Homo sapiens: one gene and its partner. The main gene of each other region encodes a partner of the protein of the gene in region 2 in a complex. Each region holds a gene or a part of one and is shown on either strand. Other genes may lie near its edges.

Evidence for each region.
Region 1: the proteins of ARL15 (region 2) and CNNM2 are in contact, whole or in part, in a crystal structure (PDB 8F6D), measured with the Homo sapiens proteins. Residues at the interface, in NP_061960.1 of Homo sapiens: Tyr92, Ser94, Arg95, Gln98, Gln128, His129, Pro130, Gln131, Cys133; in NP_060119.3 of Homo sapiens: Asn490, Val492, Pro521, Leu522, His523, Phe524, Val525, Phe526, Thr529, Glu537, Lys542, Ser543, Gln549.

What each region holds. Positions count from the first base shown.
Region 1 is NC_000010.11:102,920,257-102,931,029, reverse strand, and holds part of CNNM2 (metal transporter CNNM2), read right to left. Parts: intron 3,686-10,773; coding exon of another isoform or gene 3,648-3,685; exon of another isoform or gene 3,412-3,647; intron 1-3,411.
Region 2 is NC_000005.10:54,165,217-54,175,989, forward strand, and holds part of ARL15 (ADP-ribosylation factor-like protein 15), read right to left. Parts: intron 6,713-10,773; coding exon 6,568-6,712; intron 1-6,567.

The DNA of each region.
Region 1 (10,773 bases), on a different chromosome or scaffold from region 2:
GGGATTTGTCAAGAATGCAACATGCACACCAATGTTCATAGAATCATTATTAATAGGCAAAAAGTGGAAACAATCGAAATGCCCATCAACTGATGAGTGGATAAACAACATGTGGTATATCTATAAAACTGAATATTTGGCCGTAAAAAGGAATGAAATACTGATACATGCTACAACATGGATGAACCTTGAAAACATGTTAAATGAAAGAAGCCAGCCACAAAAGGCCACATTTCATTTACATGTTATATGAAATGTCCAGAATAAGCTAATCCATACAGACAGTAAATTAGTTGCCAGTGACTAGGGGGAACAGAAAATGAGAAGTGACTGCAAAGAGGTATGGAGTTTCTTTCGGGGTGATGAAAATGTTCTGTAAGTAGACAGTAGTAATGACTGCACAACCTTGTGAACATACCAAAAAGCATCAAATCACATACTTTAAAAGGGTGAGTTTTAAGATATGTGAATTATATCTCAATTTTTAAAATTTTAAAAAAGAACCAACTGTTTCAGCAGTAAAATGTTCCTCAAGAGAAATGGAATGAGTTCCTTAATACGAGCAATGGTTAGTTTTCACAAGATCAGGATTCATAATGTTCTTAGCAGATTTGAATTTTTTCCAGGTATATCATGTACAAAGTTAACAAGGAGATTTTCACAAAGACTGGCTATGATCACCCCACCCTAATACATCAACTATTTTCATTTTTTCCACGTTACCTTCCAGTGTATACATATATATATTTTTTTGCATGTCTATATTCCGTGCAAATAATCAGTGCAAATTTTCCCATATTGCTATGTGGCTTTCAAGATTATCACTGAATGGTTGGAAATAGTTCACATTTATAATTTTCTTAACTCTTTCTCCTCCACTCCTTGCCTTGAAGTGTTAGATATTTACTTCCAATTTTTCACTGTTTCTAGATAACGCTGCAACACACATACAACATAAAAAGCTAACATAGCTCTTTTCTTCTCTTGGATCACTGAATTAAGATTTCCAGGGGAAAAAAATACTAAATCATTTTTATGACACCCAGTTGCCTTCCAAAATCATTATAAATTTACACTGCTATAAGCAATACAAACTTGCTATATTAGGCATTACCATTTTTTATACTTTTTATGCAATCAGTGTTAAAATATTTTATCTTTTTTGATCTTCCTTTAGTCTTAAAAGTCTTTGGTTATTCAAGGGCTTCCAAAATCCACAAGCACTTGCTTTTAAAATGCATGCCAATGTTCACAGCAGCATTATTCATAATAACCAATCATAATGGCCAAAAAGTGGAAACTGTCTAAATGTCTATCAACGGATGAGCGGATAAACAACTCAAAAGACTTGTTGTCTTTTTCAGTTGTTTATGATTAAAGAGAATGAAGAATTATTTTAAAACACAGTATTCTTACTCTAAGGAAAGTAGAACCTATAATAAATTGTTCTGTTTTCCTTAAAAATATATATGCATGTAGTCACCTTGTCAACTGCTAGGAAAATAACAAAGCTTAGGATTCAATCACAACAAAAAGGAAAAGAAAAAACCTACAATAACTAGTCACTTTTTTTTTTTTTTTTTAAAAAAGACATGCTCTTGCTCTGTCACCCAGGCTGGAATGCAGTAGTACAATCACAGCTCATTGCAGCCTCAAACTCCTAGATTCAAGCAATCCTTCTGCCTCAGCTTTCCTAAAAGCTTCCTAAAGTGCTGGGATTACAGACATGAGCCACTGCACCCAGCCTAGCCACTCTTTTTTTTCTTGTTTTGAGACAGAGTCTCGCTCTGTCGCACAGGCGGAGTACAGTGGCATGATCTCGGCTCACTGCAACCTCAGCCCCCTGGGTTCAAGCAATTCTCCCACCTCAGCCTCCTAAGTAGCTGGGACTACAGGCACATGCCACCACGCCCGGCTAATTTTTGTATTTTTAGTGGAGACTGGGTTTCACCATGTTGGCCATGCTGGTCTTGAACTCCTGACCTCAAGTGATCCACCCACCTAGGCCTCCCAAAGTGCTGGGATTACAGGCATGAGCCACCACGCCCAGCGAGCCTAGCCACTTTTAGATTTCAACACCAATAATAATTATAAGGACACACGCTAAAATGTCTCTCTTGACTATCAGGCTCCAGTCAAGAGAATGACCAAGAACAATTGCTATGGTTTGAATGCGTCCTCTCAAAATTTCATGTTGACACTTAATCCCCACAGTAGTGATATTAAGAGGTGGGGCCTTTGGGGGAAGTGATTAAGCCATGGGGACTCTGAACCAGCGCCTCATACAAGTGCTGGAGGGAACTAGCTTAGGCCCTTTTCACCTTCCATTTCTCTGCTATGTGAGGATGCCATATGAAGGCTCTCACCAGACGCCAGTGCCAGTGTCTTGATCTTGGACTTCCCAGCCTCTAGAACTGAGAAATAAATTTCTTTTTTTTTTTTTTTTTGAGACAGAGTTTCACTCTTGTTGCCCAGGCTGGAGTGCAGTGGCGCAATCCCGGCTCACTGCAACCTCCACCTCATGGGTTCAAGAGATTCTCCTCCCTCAGCCTCCTGAGTAGCTGGAATTACAGGCGCCCACCACCACAGCTGGCTAATTTTTTGTGTTTTTAGTAGAGACAGGGTTTCATCATGTTGGCCAGGCTGGTGATCTTACCTCAGGTGATCCACCCGCCTCGGCCTCCCAAAGTGCAGGGATTACAAGCATGAGCCACAATGCCCGGCCACCTTCTATTATTTTTAAGTTACCCAGTCTGTGGTATTTTGTTACAGCAGCACAAACAGACTAAGATAACAACCAAGAGCCTACAGAAAGAATTGTTATAATAAAAATACTGGTTAAGCACAAAGTGCCAGGTACTGTTAGAAACATTTATATATTTATTAGTACAATAATTCTTACTAAGTACCATATGAGTTAGAAAATATCCCCATTTTACTTTGAAAAAAACTTAGGGTTAAAGAGGATAAGTTACTTGTCCAAAACAGATCCAGGAAGAGCACATTGTTCTTAACCTTTGCATTAACAGATGCTATCCTCCCCACAGCATGTGAATTCAAAAAGAAGCACTCCCACCTCCGAATGACAGCAAGGGAGGGTTAAATAGGATGACACGAAGATCTCACCGTCCATTACAGCAGTGTTTATGTTCAGTCATAGCACTAATGTAACACAGGGAGAGGGTTTGGCATCCCCATTATCCATCAACATCTAAGCTAGACCACAAACCTCTAGTTCCTCCTTCGAAAGCCTGCCACCACCCCCTCCTTTTTTTTTGAGACAGAGTCTCACTTTGTCGTCCAGTGACGTGATCTCAGCTCACGGCAACCTCCGCCACCTAAGTTCAAGTGATTCTCCTGTCTCAGCCTCCCAAGAAGCTGGGAATTCAAGCACCCACCACCACGCACAGCTAATTTTTCTGTATTTTTATTAGAAACGGGGTTTCACCATGGTGGCCAGACTGTCAGTCTGGAACTCCTGACCTCAAGTGATCCACCTCCCTGGGCCTCCCAAAGTGCCGGGATTACAGGCATGAGCCACCACGCCCAGCCAACTGCCACCCCTTTTTATCCCTCTGTATAGACATCCTAGAGTTGCCAATGTCTGTGATGTTGAAAGAAAGAATGCTTCTTATTGTCTCTTCTTTTCAGTGTTGGTATGATTTGGGTTTCTTGTTTGTGTGTTCTGAGAAAAACAAAAAGAGATGAAAAGACAATACTTTAAAAAACTGTATTCAATCCTAGTGATCCACTTCCACATGTTTGAGTTTAATAGTACTCTTTATATGTCAAGCAAATCTTAATGAATTGAAAGTTTACTGTCAATAACATATACATACACACATATATATATATTTAGAGAAAAGGGCTCATTTGAAAAATATATACCACTTTATAAGTAACTACGCATCTAATTACACTCTACAGGTTTGCTCTTAAAAGTTTATGTAAGGCTGGGTGTGGTGGCTCACGCTTGTAAACATAAAATTTTATATTGAAAATAAAAGCAGGGGTCAGGCATGGTGTCTCATGCTTGTAATCCCAGCACTTCAGGAGGCCGAGGAAGGCAGATCACTTGAGCCCAGGAGTTCAAGATCAGCCTGGACAACATGGCATGACCTCGTTTCTACTAAAAATACAAAAAAAATTAGCCGGGCATGGCAGCGGGTGCCTGTAATCCCAGCTTCTCGGGAAGCTGAGGCATGAGAATGGCATGAGCCCAGGAGGTGGAGCTTGCAGTGAGCCGATATCGTGCCACTGCACTCCAGCCTGGGCAACAGTGCGAGACTCCATCTCAAAAAAAAAAAAAAAAAAAAATTAGCTGGGTGTGGTGGCACACGCCTGTGGTCCCAGGTACTCTGGAGGCTGAGATGGGAGGATCACTCGAACCTGGGAGGTCGAGGCTGCAGTGAGCTATGCTAGCTAGCACCACTGCATTCCAGCCTGGGTAACAGAGCAAGACCCTGTTTTGAAAATAAATAAGTAAAAGCAGGAAAACCCACAGAACAGTTCAGTCTGTTTTGTGGGTTTTCTTGGTTGATGATATTTTAAATTGTGTTTAGATTTGCTAATAATTAAAATTAACCAGCCCCTCACAATGGTTAAGAATGCTTCAGGAAAGATAGTGTGTAATCCCCATAAAAACCAAGAGAAAACGCAGACAAGTTCCTTTCCCGCTTCATCCAGCTCCTACTTAGTCAGGGCTGGTATTTAACTAGGGTCTCTCCTCACCTAAATGTCTATGCTCAGACTTCGGTGATCCTAGTAACGCAATAACTTCTACAAATCAGCATGATTCTCTGTGAGAATTTCACTTATATTATTTGTTAAAACTTGGGAGGTGTGTGGTACAGAGGGTACACAAATGCACGAATAGGACATGGGCTTCAAATGCTTTGATGAACATTTCCATGGAAATTTTACAGATCTGTATGTACTGTGAACAGAAATGAAAAGTCAAGGAAGCTTCACCCCCACAGTCCTAACCAAATCCAATCATCATTACTCTCACAGAAGAAATAATCAATGAGAAAACAAATCATTAAAGGATATCCAAAATAAGCTAAGTCAAATAAAACATCTTATATTTAATTACCTGAGGCTTCAAATAACCTAGGTATCAACACTCATTTCCTAAAATACCCTCCTAGTCTAACCACAACAAAGTAAAAAACTCAGTTAAACTAAGATAAAAATAAAACATAAAATTAAATAAAAATGAGCTCACACACTTGGACTTATTTTCTATATAATAAAATGCTTGTCAAAAATTGCTTGAATCCAGGGCATCTAACATATTGACAGGAAAATCACGAGACCAATAAAAACCAACGGTAACACTCACTATTTGTTTTTTCAATGATGCTGCTACCTTCATCTCTGAATAACTTGGGACCAGAAGACCAGCCTGCTGGAGCAGGAAGAACTCCAATCTAGAAGTCAGGGACATGGGATCTAGTTCAGTTGATGCTACTAGCTAGGTAGGTGGCCCTAAATAGGTCATTTACTTTGTTTTTTCTCTTTCTCAGGGTTTACTTTCCTTAATCAAGGGGCTGACTAGACCAGTTTTTCCTAAACTCACCTAACCATAAGAAGTACCCCAGGGAAACTGTAAACGACATGGATTCCAAAAGCTCTTTCCCAATTCAGAGGTCTCTGGGTGAGGCCTAAGACCTTACTCTTATTAAGTGACCCAAGTAAATCTTTTTTTTTTTTTTTTTTTTTTTTTTTTTTGAGATGGAGTTTCGCTCTTGTTGCCCAGGCTGGAATGCAATGGTGCGATCTCAGTTCACCACAGCCTCCGCCTCCCGGGTTCAAGCAATCCTCCTGCCTCAGCCTCCCGAGTAGTTGGGATTACAGGCATGTGCCACCATGCCCGGCTAATTTTGTATTTTCAGCAGAGACAAGGTCTCTCCATGTTGGTCAGGCTGGTCTTGAATTCCCTTCCTCAGGTGATCCACCCGTCTCAGCCTCCCAAAGTGCCTGGATTACAGGCGTGAGCCACCGCACCCAGCCCCAAGTAAATCTTATCATCAGGTAAATCTGGCAAACACTGGACTAGATAATCCTCAAGCTGCCTGCCTTCCAGCTCTGATTCTGTATTATCTGGATATTTCATAATAGTGTTCTAAAAACACACAAAATTACAATCATTTAATGTATGTTACTGCACAAAAATAAATGTACAACATCATGAAAACAAATATATCAGCTCCCGGTGACACCATTCATACCTTTAAACACTAATAAAAACATCTTCTGGCCAGGCATGGTGGCATGCACCTGTAATCCCAGCACCTTGGAAGGCTCAGATGGGAGGATTGCTTGAGGCCAGGAGTTCAAGACCAGGCCTGGGCAACATAGCAAGACCCTAACAAATACGTATAAAATAATTAAAAAAAAAAAAACAACTTCCTAGATTCAAGGCAAATACAACACTTAATTTGGTGAGAAAAAAATGTGTTTAATATTAAGCTCTCAGTATATTAATATGGAGAGATTTGCTGAGTTATAGAAAGAAATTACCTAATATCTTAGGTGAAAACTGTACAGTGCATTCTTTCCTTGAAGAACAACATTATCTGGTGATCCCACCTGTTACTAAGAAAAAGCTAGAAAAGAGGCTGGCTAAGTCCCTAGCAGCTGTAAATAGCATGCTCTGCAATACTGGAATGCAACTGTTATAAAGCTAAAAGAAAAACAATGAAACAGTAACTGGTTACAAATTCTTCAAATGCACCTCAGCATAGACAACTTGGTGGCCCAATCTTTTGTGAGGACGGTTTTGTCAGGTGAATGGAGAGCCTCTAACATGCTTTCCACACACAAAGGTGGCAGCCTTTCATTTTGCTTTTCCTTCCCCTACACTACATTGCTCTAGTTTTTCTAAAATTCTCATAATCCTCTAGCGGTATTTACTGAATTTATTCTCTTATTTAGACTTGTAAGTAACTACAAAACTAACACACACAAAAAAAGAGAAAGGTTCCTTGCATGGAATACAGAGAGCAGAGTTGTGTAAAGGATGCTCATTAGCAACCAGTTATACAGATAGATTCAAAAATGTAAATAAAAACCAAGATTAAAACACAAAACTGAGTTTGACCAATTACTATGTGACCCTTGCAACAGAAACAGATAAGAAACCAATAGTGAAACATGATTACATAATTTAGCTATGGGAAAAACAGCTGTAGAGCAGCCCATGGAAGAAGCACATTAGTACAGCACATTGTTAGTACAAAACTTTCCAAAATGAATCTTGATGCTGGATATGCAAATGCTGTCAACACAATTCTTTAGACTTAGGATCACACAGGCCAAAAAACTGTTTTAATGGCAAAAAAGGGGACACCAGTTGTTATGCACAACACCACAGAAGCACTGGGTTTAAAGCCATATATATGTTTAAACACATTTCTTTTCTATTGCCCAACAGGCTCTGAGGCAGTGTTGAGACAAAAGACTAAACCTCACACTCAGTAAAATAGAAATGTCAAACCAGGATCAAGGAGAGCAGCATAAGAGAGAGGTTAAGAGAGCAGGTTCTGGTGTCACAAAGACCTAAGTTAAAACCCCAAGGCACAAATTACTGTGTGACCTTGAACAAATCATTTCACCCAAGTCAATTTCCTCATTTGTAAAATGGAGATAATACTTCATTCAGCCATTTGAGATTTAAACAAGGTGATTCATATAAAGCCCCAGCCCCTGTACCTGGCACAGAATACATAGGTAAGTAATAATCATCACCATCATCATGATCAAACTGTAAAATCAGCACAATTACTGTCTCAAATAAAGCCAAGAGTTTCCTGGTAGCCAGAGAAAAAAGACAATCACAGTTCGAATCCAGCCTGGGCAACACAGTGAGACCTTGTCTCTTGGGGAAAAAAAAAAGGAAGAAGAAAGAAGACATTCACATATACTAATATAAAGGTGGCTTTTCTTCCCACATTCAGAACATTCTATTTCCTCCTCTTTAATAAAGAACAACTCAGACTAATTCTCTACAGCTATATACAGGAAAGTCTTCAATACAGAAGTTCTTAACTAGGAAGGACAATTTTGTTTCTTTTTTTTTTTTTTTTTTGAGACAGGGTCTTTGTCCCCAAGGCTGTAGTGCAATGGCACCATCTCAGCTCATTGCAATCTCCGCCTCCCAGGCTCAAGGAATCCTCCCACCTCAGGCCTCCCAAGGAGCTGGGACCACAGGCACACACCACCACGCCCAGCTAATTTTTGTATTTTTTGTAGGCACGGGGTGTCACCAGGTAGCCCAGGCTAGTCTCAAACTCTTGGGCTCAAGCCATCTGCCCACCTTGGCCTCCCAAAGTGCTGGGATTACGGGCATGAGCCACCATGCCTAGCCAAAAGGATAATTTTCAATGAGATCTGGATCTATGATCTAACTGGTCTGGGGAGTTACAATTGGTATTGTTGGGGTTGTTTGTTTTGTTTTGGGTTTTCTTTTGTAAATGAGGAATTTAGGAGAGAGGTAGAGGAAGAAAAAGTCTTCAAACCATTTAATACGCCGTTATTCAGTAGAGAAAAATAAAAGGTTGATTGTTAACACTGTCATAATTGATTTAGAAAATGAAGACATGAAAATCAGGTAAAATGTTTTAACTCAGACATAAAAAAAAGAACCAATATAACTGACAGTAAGGTTAAAGTAACCAAACTGATAATAAAAAAAAAATCCAAGAAAGGGAAGGTGAAAAAATCAATTATTCCCATAGTTTAAGTAACAAATATCCATTCTGTCCTTTTAAGATCATGGCTTAAATTTCCCATTTGCAACCAACTATCTTTGCCTGCTCTTCCGAATATGCCACTAGCTTGAATGTATGCCTTTAACTTGGACTATCTTCTTAACCAAATACATCATTCTAGTTAAAGACAAAAATTAAATCTTGTGCATTATTATTTTTCTAGAATTCATAGGGAAATATTAGTAATTCCATCATTTAAAGAATACATTTCAAAAAAATACTGAGTGGTAATTCTGAAGGAAAAACAGCTCCTCATGAAAATAAATCCATCATAGAAAAATTGTTCAAGGTCAATCAAGCACAAATTTCAAAATAATACGAATTTTGAAATTTTGAGTAAGGGCGGCATTAAGGAGCTGTGAGGTGAAAAACTAAATTCTCAAGGTAAAAAGATATAGAAGTGAAGAAAAGACTTCAGCAAGAAGTACAAACTAGTGTTATCAATTCATGAGTAAATGTGCAAAATTCTAAGTAATAAAAAACTCATGCAATAGATCATCTGTATCAATATTGGGAAATTTAGCAATAGAAAGACTTTCAGGGGCATTTCCAAACATCCCAATATATCTTTCTGTATTACAGATATTACTGCAAAATGAAAGAAGTTAGATGCTCTAATTAACAACTTAGTGGTGAAAGAATGACACCCCCAAAAGAAGCTATGTCACCTAGAGATACTGGACATTTTCTTTTTACTATTTAAGAAACCAGAAGAACCTCCTTCTGCTTTTAAATGCAAATTTACCAATCTTCAAAGCACATTCTGCCCTGTTCCTTTACATAAAACTTACTACAATGTGATCCTGTTCTAGAGAGGACATCATTCAACCAGAAAAATGGCATTAGGACAACCATACACTCTTTGAGTATGTTCAGATCATCACATCCAGTGAGCTGTCACCAGGTACATATCACCTTTTTCAGAGGAGAGACTACTACCAGTGATCAAAATTCTATTTGAAGAAGGGAAACTTGGTTTTGAGGACTATCAGGTCACGAAAGGTTACATACACATTTCAATACCTGCACATGCCCTAGCATCTTAATAATTCAAAAACTCAGCATCCCTTGGTTTTCAAATAACACTATTTACTGGAAACATTCAGAACTTCAATAATAATAGTACAAGTTGCTATTTACCTGTTCATTATATGGTCAAACGAACAAATATAAATGATGTACTGTATAAGCATCTTGGAACGGTGAGAGTTGACGGAGACATACTTCAACTTAATGTATCGGATGATCAAGGTGGAAAAAAAGAACACGTTAAACTGAAAGAGTCAAGAAATAAATAAGCCCCAATAGAGGGATTCATCCCACTGTTAAAGGTTCAAGCTTTCTGCCAAAATCACACTTGGTTTGGGCAACTGTAACTGTTGTCAGATAAATGTAAACAAATAGTGAAGAAGGCTACGGGACATACAGCCTCTTCACAAAAGGCTGGCTAACCTCTAATCTTTCCAAGTTACATATTAATAACTTTAATTTAAAACAACAACAACAACTCTTTTCTAGCTAAGAGAAGTCACATCCAAAATGGGTGATTTTTTTTGGCGATACTTAGTTTACCCCACCCCTTACCCTCAAAGGCAGACCTCAATCTTCCCCACAAGTTGCCAGGCAAGCAGGAACAGAAGCTATAGAAAATGTACTTCGATCTTTGAAAGGCCAGTGTGGATGTTTAAGGAGGAGAAAAAGGACTGCACTGGGTTTACAAAAGCTAGTTACATGTTTTCCAAATGCCTGTGATTAAAGTCCACCAAATGGCATGGCATCAGCCAGCCCCTACCTTCACCTACTCACTGAGAACCCAGACAATGAAGGCGGCAGACCCCTCAAGAACAGAGGCCCACACACGGGACCAAAAAAAAAAAAATAAATAAGTGTCATGCACAGAAATTACACAGCCTGCTTTTTGATAATGGGAAAAAGTAAGTGATGGCAGTCTTGTGCTTTAAAATAACCTAGTAGCACTTACTAGTTCAATCCATCCCCA
Region 2 (10,773 bases):
TTATTATTGTTGTTTAAAGACATACCTCTTAAAGATATTTAAATAATAAGAAGTAAATATTATATAATTATCCACATAATTTGCATTTCTGGCAGTCTCCATTTTATATAGATCCAGATTTCCATCTGGTATCATTTTTTTTCTGACTCAAGGACTTCTTTTAACATTTCTTATAATGCTTATCTGCTAGCAATAAATTCCTTCAGATTTTGTATGTCTGAAAAAGTCTAGTCTTTATTTTTACTTTCTTTTTAAAAGAGACTTTTGCTGGATATTAGTTGACAGTTTTTTCCCTTTCAGATGCTGCTCCAATGTCTTCTTACTTGCATTTTTCCAGTGAAAAAATGTGATGCCATCCTTATTTTTATTCTTACTCATGTAACATCTTTTATCTGCTTTTAAGGTATTTTCTTTGTACTACTTTGTTCTCAAGAGAAAAAAAAAACCAAAAGGATGTGTGTTTATATGCATATTTATATGTATGTATAGGTGCATGTATGGATATAAATATATACCTTTGTTTATATATATATATATAAATAGAGACAGAGAAATACTTTAAGAAATTGGCTCACACAATTACAGTTGCTATAAACCCAAAATCTACAGTTTGGGCTGGCAGGCTGGAGACCCAGGAAAGAATCAATACGCAGTTCAAGTCCAAAGGCCATTTACTGAAGAATTCCCTCTTGTTCCAGGGAGGCAAGTCTTTTATTCTATTCAGGCCTTCAACTGGCTGGATGAGGCCAAACCACATTATGGAGGACAATCTGTCAAAATCCGCAGATTTAAGTATTAAGTTCATCCCAAACTACCCTTATAGAAATATCCAGACTAATGTCTGACTACATATTTGGGCACTGGGACCCAGCCAGTTACACACAAAATTAAACATCATATTCTTTATCACCGGTTTTGAACAATTTTATTATGATGTGCCTTGGTATAGTTATATTCACGTTTCTTTCTCTCTCTCTCTTTTTTTCCCCCACAAGAGATGGGGTCTCTCTCTCTGTCACCCAGGTTGGAGTAAAGCAGTGTGATCACAGCTCATTGCAGCCTCAAACTCCTGGGATCAAGCAATCCTCCTACTTCTGCCTCACAAGTAGCTGGGACTACAGGCAAGCACCAACACATGCAGCTAATTTATTTATTTATTTATTTGTAGAGATGGGGGTCTTACTATGTTGCCCAAGCTGGTGTCAAATTCCTGGCCTCAAGTGATACTTCCGCCTCAGCTTCTCAAAGTATTGGGATTACAAGTGTGAGCCACTGTGCCCAGCCTTGCTCATGTTCCTTTTGTTTGGGGTTCAGTGAGCTTCTTGGATCTGTAGGTGTAGAGTTTTCTTCATGTTCAACAATGTTTCAGCCATTATTTCTTCAAATATTTTTCTGTCCCTTTCCACTCACCTTCATGGACTCAAATTACCCTAGCTTAGGTTTAAAGTTGTCCCATAGCTCGCTGGATGCTCTTTGCATTTTTTTCTCTCTCAGATTGTCTCTATGAACAGATACAATACAGTGATAATAACAGTTTTAATGTCCCCCTTTGCTACTTCTAATATTTACATCAGTTCTGGGTCAGTTCCAATTCGATGATTATTCTCATTATGAATCATGATTTCTGGCCTCTTCCCATCCCTGATAATCTTTGACTGACTGGCAGACATTGTGAATTTTACCTTGTTGAGTGATGAATATTTTTTCTTTAAATCCTATACAGCTTTGTGCTGAGATGCATTACATTACCAGACAACCATCTGAGGTTTTGGGACTTGCTAATATTATCTGTCATGTGAGTCCAGAGTGGTACTCCACTTACGGCTGACCTTGCCAAGTACTCTACCCAGTTCCTTGTGAGTTATAAGTTTTTCAGTCCATCTGGTGATTACAGGCATAGTTTTCAACCCTGTATGAACACCAACCACTGTTCCCTCTAGTCCTTTAAGATGGTTCTTGCCCTGGCCTTGGGAAGTTTCCTCACATGCATGCATTGAATATTTTGCTGGATACTCAAGGGAGACTCTGAAAATCTTTAGTGTTCTCTCTCTGTACAACTCTTTTCTCTGGTATTCTATTCTATGAACATTAGCCATCTTGGTCTCCCCTTGCTCTCGGCTTCATCTCCTCAATGCAGGGAGTTCACTGAGCTCCACCTCAGCTCCCTCTGGAACTGTGCCACAGCCTGGAAACTCTCAAGGCATTAAGCTGGGACAATCACAGAGCACATCTCATTTGTTTCTCATTTCTCAGGGATAACTGCGTTTCCTGGCTTGAAAATTGTTGCTTTGTATATTTCATGAGCTGGTTGCTGTTGTTGTTCTTCTTCTTTTAGATGGGAGAGTAAACTAGTTCCAGTTATTCCATCTTACCAGAACAAGAAGTCCTCACTCATCCTTGTGCTCACTGCCCTCTCTTGAGCATATTCAGTCTTGCCTTTTCCCCTGATGACCACCCTAAACCTCTGACTACTAGCATGCTCAAGAGACCTTTTCTTATAGAAACAAATTCTCTTAGCACTATTTTCTCTTTTTCTGTCCACCTTCTTGAAAGAACTGTCTATATTCCAAAGAGTTAAGGAGTGAAAACGATGGTCTACCCCTCAATTCCTTTGCTTGCTCTTCATCCCCTCAATTCTCAGGTTGGTTTCCACCTCAATACTCTACTGAAACTGTTTCTACCATTAGTTATTAATTACCACGTTGTCACCACATCCAATGGCCTTTCTCAGACTTTAGACTTACGTTTACCTTATTTGACTGGTTCTTTTGATTTCTTGCCCATATTTGACTTAAAGGATATTATATAGAACTGTCTGACCTATATTCCTTATCAAAAGCAGATGCTGTAATGTAAGCTCCAAAGAGCAGGGTTGTTTGTATATTTTGTTAACTGATATATCCTCAGTCCTTAAATCAGTGGCAGTCACATAACAGACATTCAATGAATGTGGAATGAATTAACAAAATATAATTGGTGCTTAGCACCTTTCTTCCCGCTTTCTACCCATTACCCCTGGACAAGCTCATCCAAATCTATGACTGAGTTGTCTCTCAAATCTCTCTAGTCTGCTTGGCTTTTAGCATTTGGATCACTGTTGGATGTCTTGTCAAACCTCAAAATCAGCATGCCCCAAACTAAACTCATTATTTTTATCTTAAAACTCTGTCACATTCTCCCTACTTTTTTTTTTTTTAACAATTCACCAAAACATAAAGCTATAAACTTGACTCATATTTGATTGTTTTATCTTCCTTTCCTCTTGAATACCCAGCATAACTGTCACTTTTACAGTAGCAGTAACATCCCCACAAGTATTGTCCCTGCTGGATCACCTCTACATCTAACAGGTCTCCCCCAACAGCTTCTCTAAGTCTCTAGCCTTAGATCCCAACATCCCCTAAATCTCTGCATGCTGTGCCTTAACCCAGTAAGACCACTAATCTTTCTCTGAATATACCTATGCTTTCTATCCCTAACTCTCCTCACCCCATTCCTCTCTGCTTAGACCTTACCCATCATATGAGACCCTACTCAAATGTAACCTTAACTATGAGCTTTCTTTGACCCTCCAGATTAGAAATGATCACTCTCCTCTTTTAACTTTCATATTTACACCATTAATATAACACATATCACATTCTGTCTTAGCACAGAGCCTGGAGTATATTAAATAAGCAATATATGTGAACTGTTTTTATCAATACACAACTTATCTTCCTAACCTGGGTGTAAACTTCTTGATGGCAGCTTCCTCCAAAGAGGCCTCCAAAAAGACATTATGCCAGGTTCAGAACAATGACAACTCAAAGAAGCTTGATATCCAAAAAATTAGCCAACCTAACAACTAATTCATCAGAAAATAGACTAGTGCACAATTCTGGTAAAACGTATTATTAAAAAATTTCATAAAAACAAACACAAAACATAACTTACAAGTAAGAAAATTATATACAGATAATCTTTTACACTATAATTCAAAACTGCTCCTCTAGCAATAGTGCTAGAAGATAACTCTGATAAGTGAAGAAAAGCATACTTTGTGTTACTCTTACACATATTTTAGAAGCTATTTTGATTGAAAAGACTTAAGCTAATAAAGTTTATATAACTTCATTGCACATTACTCAAAAGATATTCACAGTTTTATAAACAACCAATAAAGTACCTACTTCCACCAGAAATCCTAAACCTTGGATACCACTAAACTTCACTTGAACACCTGAACTGGCATCCTATCTCTAGCTATGTAACAATAGCCATGTCACCATACCTTTGATCTTCAGGTAATTTAGAAACAGAATATGGAAAAAGATTCCTACCTGTCATATAAGGGCTGTTATAAGGCTAACAGAAGACTATATAGATTCAATTTACTTTCATTTGCTTATTAACAGACATCTGTATCCATGCCTAAACCTTGTGACAGACTCTGGGTATACAATACCACATATGATGCTCTAGCTGCCCTTAAGAGATTCTAACCCAAGATGGGGAGATGGGCACATACATAAAGCAGTGCTACAGGCACTAACTGGGAGAAATACGGACAACGCCCAGTGGGGAGAGGAGGGAGTACTCAGTTCTGTCCAAGGAGAAAAGAAGGTAGTCAGAAACAGCTTCCTGCAAAGAGGCTACACATGAGCTCTGCTAATCTTCTCTGGGGTCTCTACTCATTACAATCCCCTTATCCTTTCCCTCATCCTAAAATCAAGCAATGTCTCTAACCCTTTAACAGCTCCACAGTTTCTTATCTCAATTCTAAAATCTGAAAAGCTCTCAAAACCTGCACTTTTTTAAAACTTACTTGCCGGCAAAAGCTGACGTGAACTGAAGTAAGGTTCTTGATCAACAATATCCTTTCTACTTTTTGTAGGAAATCCTAGTTAATAATTCCATCATCCAACCATCACGTAAGCCAGGAATTGAGACAGCCATGGCTTTCTCACTCTCACCCTCCAAACCCAACTACACTAGGCTTTGTCAATTCTAGCTCTCAAATATATATCCTACCTATTCCTTCCTCTTCTTCCCCCTGTAACTGCCTCAGCCAAGGCCTTCATCATCTCAGTTGCACCATCACAGTAATCTTCTGCCTCCGCCTCCAACTGCGCTACTCACAATTTAGCCTCCACATCATGGCCAGCTTGATTCTTCTCAAATGGACATCTGATCATGTAGTTTCCTTGCTTAAAATACTCTGATGTCTCTGCACTATCTACACGAAAAGCCCAAACTCCTGAGCACAGTATGAAAGGTCTGCTAAGATTCAGCCACCACTGAATACAATTTGTCTCCTGGCACTCTATTAAACATACACTGCAGCCACACACAAATGCAGTTTCTAGGAGTTGCCAATCTGTTTGACACTCCTTACCTTCACACTGCCCCTCTGCTCCTAAGTCCTCTTTCTTTTCCACCCCCTCACCTTATTTCTTGTACCAGACCTACTTATCAACCTCAAATCTAATGTAGCAAACCAAATCATGCATCCTTCCCTTCCCCAGGTCCAGGCAACACTGTCATGCCCCTTCCTTCCATGCCCCATCTATTTCTGGATATGAACTTAATGTTTATGCAGCCAGTATACTGAGACTCCTGGAATGCTGAAATCATCGCTTATCTCATGTCTAACACTGGACCTAGCACATAGTAGGTGCTCAAAATAAGCTGGCTGATGAACAATCTTTTCAACTTTCCAGAAAACATCTCACCCTTCTCCTTCCTTCTCAGCTCTCTCTGCACAGCAGCTCTGTTCTCTATCTCTTACAGCTGTTCTTCCATTATTTCCTCTTATACTCTTCTTTCCTTCTTCATTGTCAGAAGAGAAAGAGGACACATTTGGGAAGTGAAGAAAAACCCTAGCCAGGATTTCTCACTAATAACTTGACACTGAAAACATTTTGGGCCTGATAACTCTTTGCTGTGGGGGCTGCCCTGTACATTGAAGGATGTTTAGTAGCACCACTGGCCTCTATCCACCAGAAGCCAGTAATACCCCTCCCCACAAATGACTCCAAAATGTCCCACTCAGAGGCATAATCTCCCCTGATTGAGAACCACTGCCCTAGACTGACTTTGCTTGGCTCCATCAGGAAGCAATAGGGGAAGGCTGATGCATGATCTCTTGCACTGACTTTCCTCCAGGTGAAAAATGACAAGGAAAGAAGATTCAGACTACATCAGTTTACTATTCAGGGAGTGTGTGGCCAAGAAACATAGGCTGGAGTGACACTTCAAGGAAGGAAAGTACTCTATGGGCCCAAGATGAATCCATTTTGTCATATATCAGAGTTCCAGATTTCAGGATTCATTTGTATTAATATTTTCCCAAGCTTCATTTATTCAGTGCCACTGAAATGACCTGCTAGAGGGATATAGGATACAGCAATTTAATGCTATTAAATTCATTTCAAATCTTTTTTGAAAAAGAGATAGTGTTTAAAATTAAAATAAACTGATTAAAGCATTAAACTATAAGTAGAAGGGAGGGGATAAATTGCACAGGAAACTAGGACATCTTGGGATGAGAAAGAAGAAGGGACAGAACCCCAGCACAGTACCCACCTGTGGTCGACACGACGTTATCGGGGCTTTCACTGCAGAGTTTGGACAACAGACTGGTTTTGCCAGAACCTGTGAGGCCTATGCAAACCAGGTCATATTCTGGTCGTGCAGGTGGTGGTCCCTTGCAGCAAAGTGCTCTAAAACACTGCCAAAAGAAGGGGAAAAAAATGTTCCTTTAAATGACAGTATGGAAATAAACCATAGTCACATTTAAAATGACTGAGTAAGTATTAAGAGGTAATTGAATAAAGTATTACCTATAAGGAAGAAAACGGTAACTTTAGAACAGTGAAACCTGGAGACACCACTCTAGCCAAGTGATCAAAGTTAACATTCTTAGTTATGAAATGTTTTTCTACTTCATGCCTCCCTTCCTGCTATGGCAGGTGCACTGCAAAAAGCATGACATCATCCCACAGCTTGCCTGCCAAAACCACACAATCTGAATCTAAGCATGAGGAAACCAGATAAAGCCAATCTAAGGAGTATTCCATAAGGCAACTGGCCTGTTCTCCTCCAAAATATCAATGTCTTAAAAGTCAAAGAAAGACTGAGGAACTGTTCCATGTTAAAGAAGACTAAAAAGACATAATAATAAAATGCAATATATCTTGGACTGGATCCTAGATCAAAAGGGGAAAAAAAAAGCCATAAATGACATTATTGAGACAATAAGTGAACACTGAATATAGACTGCATATTAGATAAGAGTACTGTATAAGGTTAAATTTCCTGAATTTAATCAATGTACTGTGGTTATGTAAGAAAAATCATTGTTCTGAGAAAATATTCTAATTATTTATAATACCTCTAAGTATTTAGAGGTGAAGGGTCTTGATGTCCACAATTAACTGGCTCAGAAAAATCTAAATCTCCAGCTCCATCTTTATCTGGTGAGGAGAGTGACAAAGCCAACATGGCAAAATGTTAATGACTAGTGATGCTGAGTAAAGAGAATAGAGGAAAACTCCTTGTTCTGGTCTTACCACTGATATTATTTCAAAATACAAAAATTTTTAAAATCATTAAATAGAGTCTCTATACATACCACTGCCTTTCTGGCCTTTGCTAAATTCTTTTTCAGGTCAATCAACCAGGGTACTATGAACTGTAGTATAGTTTGCTCTGCAAGAGTTAAAGACAAGGGGATCTGGGCCAGGCACAGTGGCTCAGGCCTGTAATCCCAGCACTTTGGGACCAGTCTGGCCAATGTGGTGAAACCCAGTCTGTACTAAAAATACAAAAAGAAATTAGCCAGGCATGGTGGCAGGCACCTGTAATTCCAGCTACTCAGGGGACTGAGGCAGGAGAATCACTTGAATCTGGGTGGCAGAGGTTGCAGTGAGCCAAGGTCACACTATTGCACTCCAGCCTGGGCAAAAAGAGCGAGACTCCATCTCAGAAAAAAAAAAAAAAGAAAAGAAAAGAAAGAAAGAAAGAAAAACAAGAGGATTTGGGAGACAGGGTATCATTTGTGCAGCTTTTGATCTTTCTACTTATCCCATATCCATAGGGGCCAACTATGTGCCAGCTTATAGAGCCTGAAACATTTAGACCCTGAATGATTCATGAGAGAAAGAGGGAAAGGGGGAGACAGGGAGGAAAGAAGGCAGATCCACTCACTTTTGGGTCATCTGGAGATTACGAGAGAAGAGACCTATAAAAAAGCCTGTGTTGATTCATCTCACTCAGATAAAATCTGAGTACTAATTGGCTGTCATACTCTCGTAAATCAAACTTGATTATTTCTCTCCCTCATTTCTCACATCTAATCAACAAATCTAGTTCATATGACCTCTGAAGTAGCTCTAGGATCTGTCCACTTCTGTCCAGCCCAGGCCATCATCACCTGAACAACATCAATATCCTCCCACTAGTTCCAGTATATTTGCTCTTGTGCCCCCTATTCTCCACATTGCAGTGACTGGATTGCTTATAAAGAGAAAATCTGACCATACGTGCTTAAGCCACCCCAGTGACTTTGCCCAGCTCTCGAGCCCAAACCCTTACCATGGTCTACCCCACACTCCATGATCTGCTCCAGCCAAGCTCACCAGCCTCATTGCCCTCACTCCCCTACATCCTCCAGCCATGCCCTCTCTTACCTCAACTGAGGCATCTAATATGCTGTTCCTTCTTCCCCCAATTCTGGACTTAGCCAACACCTCATCATTTTTAGGTCTCAACTTAATCATCCCATCCTCAGGGCAGTCTGCTCCAATCCTAAGATTGTGTTAGCAATTCACGTCCAGCTCTACTGGGCTTTTATAAATTCATTACACAGACAATTGCAGTTTCTTATTCATCACCAGCCTGTGAGAACCATGTCTGTCCCCCTTCATCTCAGTACTCCCAGTGTCTAGCAGAGAACATGGCATAGAATCTACCCTCAGCAGATAATTGTTGAATGAAGAATGAACGACACTTAAATTTTACCTAAGCAAAGAAAAAAGAAAACATAGAGACTAACAGGATGCTTGATCTATGTTCTCTGAGCCCTCCACGCTTCAAGAAAATACTGTCAAAATAAGAAACCGCTGACTTTTTCACTTCGCTTCAATGCCATTAGTTAGCCTAGTTCCCAAAAGAGTGGTTTTGGTGTACAGGATCAACTTTCTTGGTAAATTAGAGCTTCTTTTTGTCCTAAATTCACTTTTCCTCTGTTCTCAAGAGGTTCTGCCTGCTTCTGGTAAACAATTCTATGACCCATATTCTTCATGGGTTTATTCATGCTAATTGTATTTCCTCTCAGTCTTTTCAAGCCTGAGGAGTCCTACTTATTTCAGTCTGTCTTCATCCTATGAGATGTTCTTCTCTGATCTTCCTTTAGTTCCAGCACACCCTCTCCCACAAGATTAATGACCATAACTACTAACAGCATTCTAAACGCCAACACATCACTTCATGGATTCATATGAAGGCTGGCTGATACTGTCTGACTTTAACAAGCTTTTTTATAAAGTCTGTCTCCCAGACTCAGAATGAGAGTTTTTCTCAGAGATAGGTTTATTTGTGTATGTGTCTGTTCCCTCAAAGATGGCCATGGCTAGCAGCTGTTCAGACTTAGAAGTGGTCTTCCACATTCAATTAGGACAGACAACAAAACTAGTCACACAGTTTCTTTTACTGGGCTGCGTTGGTCTTGTTTGGGGTTCAAGGAGGAGAGATCCCATTCCTGCCCTAGAGGCCTTCATTCTCACTCAGCTCCTTGCCAGAATTCCTCTGGACTATCTCCTGGAGGAGGGCTGGCCTGACTACCCTGGCCCAAACTATCATAAACCTTAAATATCAAATGAAACTGTATGTGAATGATTGCTAGAGCATCCGGTTTAAATTATTCATGTCGTTATCACTCATATTTTTGCCAAACACTCCAGAATTTCATCTTCATGTTCTTTTTAAAATCCAGAGTAGAAAAACTTTGTAGCCAACTCCATTAATATCTATTTTACCTGTTTATTCTAGGTCACCTAAGCCACTTCTGACATAAAAGATGATTTTGCAATGATAGCAGTGATATTCTACTCCACTGTCTTTTCTCTTCTTTCTTTCTTTCTTTTTTTTTTTTCAGACAGAGTTTCACTCTTGTTGCCCGGGCTGGAGTGCAATGGCACAATCTCGGCTCACAGCAACCTCCACCTCCCGGGTTCAAGTGATTCTCGTGCCTCGGCTTCCTGAGTAGCTGGGATTACAGGTATGCGCCACCACACCCAGCTAATTTTTGTATTTTTAGTAGAGACGGGGTTTCACCATGTTGGCCAGGCTGGTCTTGAACTCTCGACTTCAGGTGATCCACTCACCTCAGCCTCCCAAAGTGCTGGGATTACAGGTGTGAGCCACCATGCCCAGCCTTCTCTTCTCTTTCTTTTTCTCTCTTTTTTTTTTTTTTAAGACAGTCTGTCTCTGTCACTCAGGCTGGAGTGCAGTGGTGCAATCTCCACTCACTGCAACCTCCAAATCCCAGGCTCAAGCAATCCTCCCACCTCAGCCTCCCGAGTAGCTGGGATTACAAGTGTGCACCACCACACCCAGCTAATTTTTGTATCTTTGTAGAGATGGGGTTTCACCATGTTGCTCAGGCTGGTCTCCATCTCCTGAGCTCAGGTGATCCACTCACCCCGGCTGCCCAAAGTGCTGAGATTACACACGTGAGCCACTGAGCCTGGTCTCTCTTCCCTTTTTATATTCTCACCAGTGATATCATCT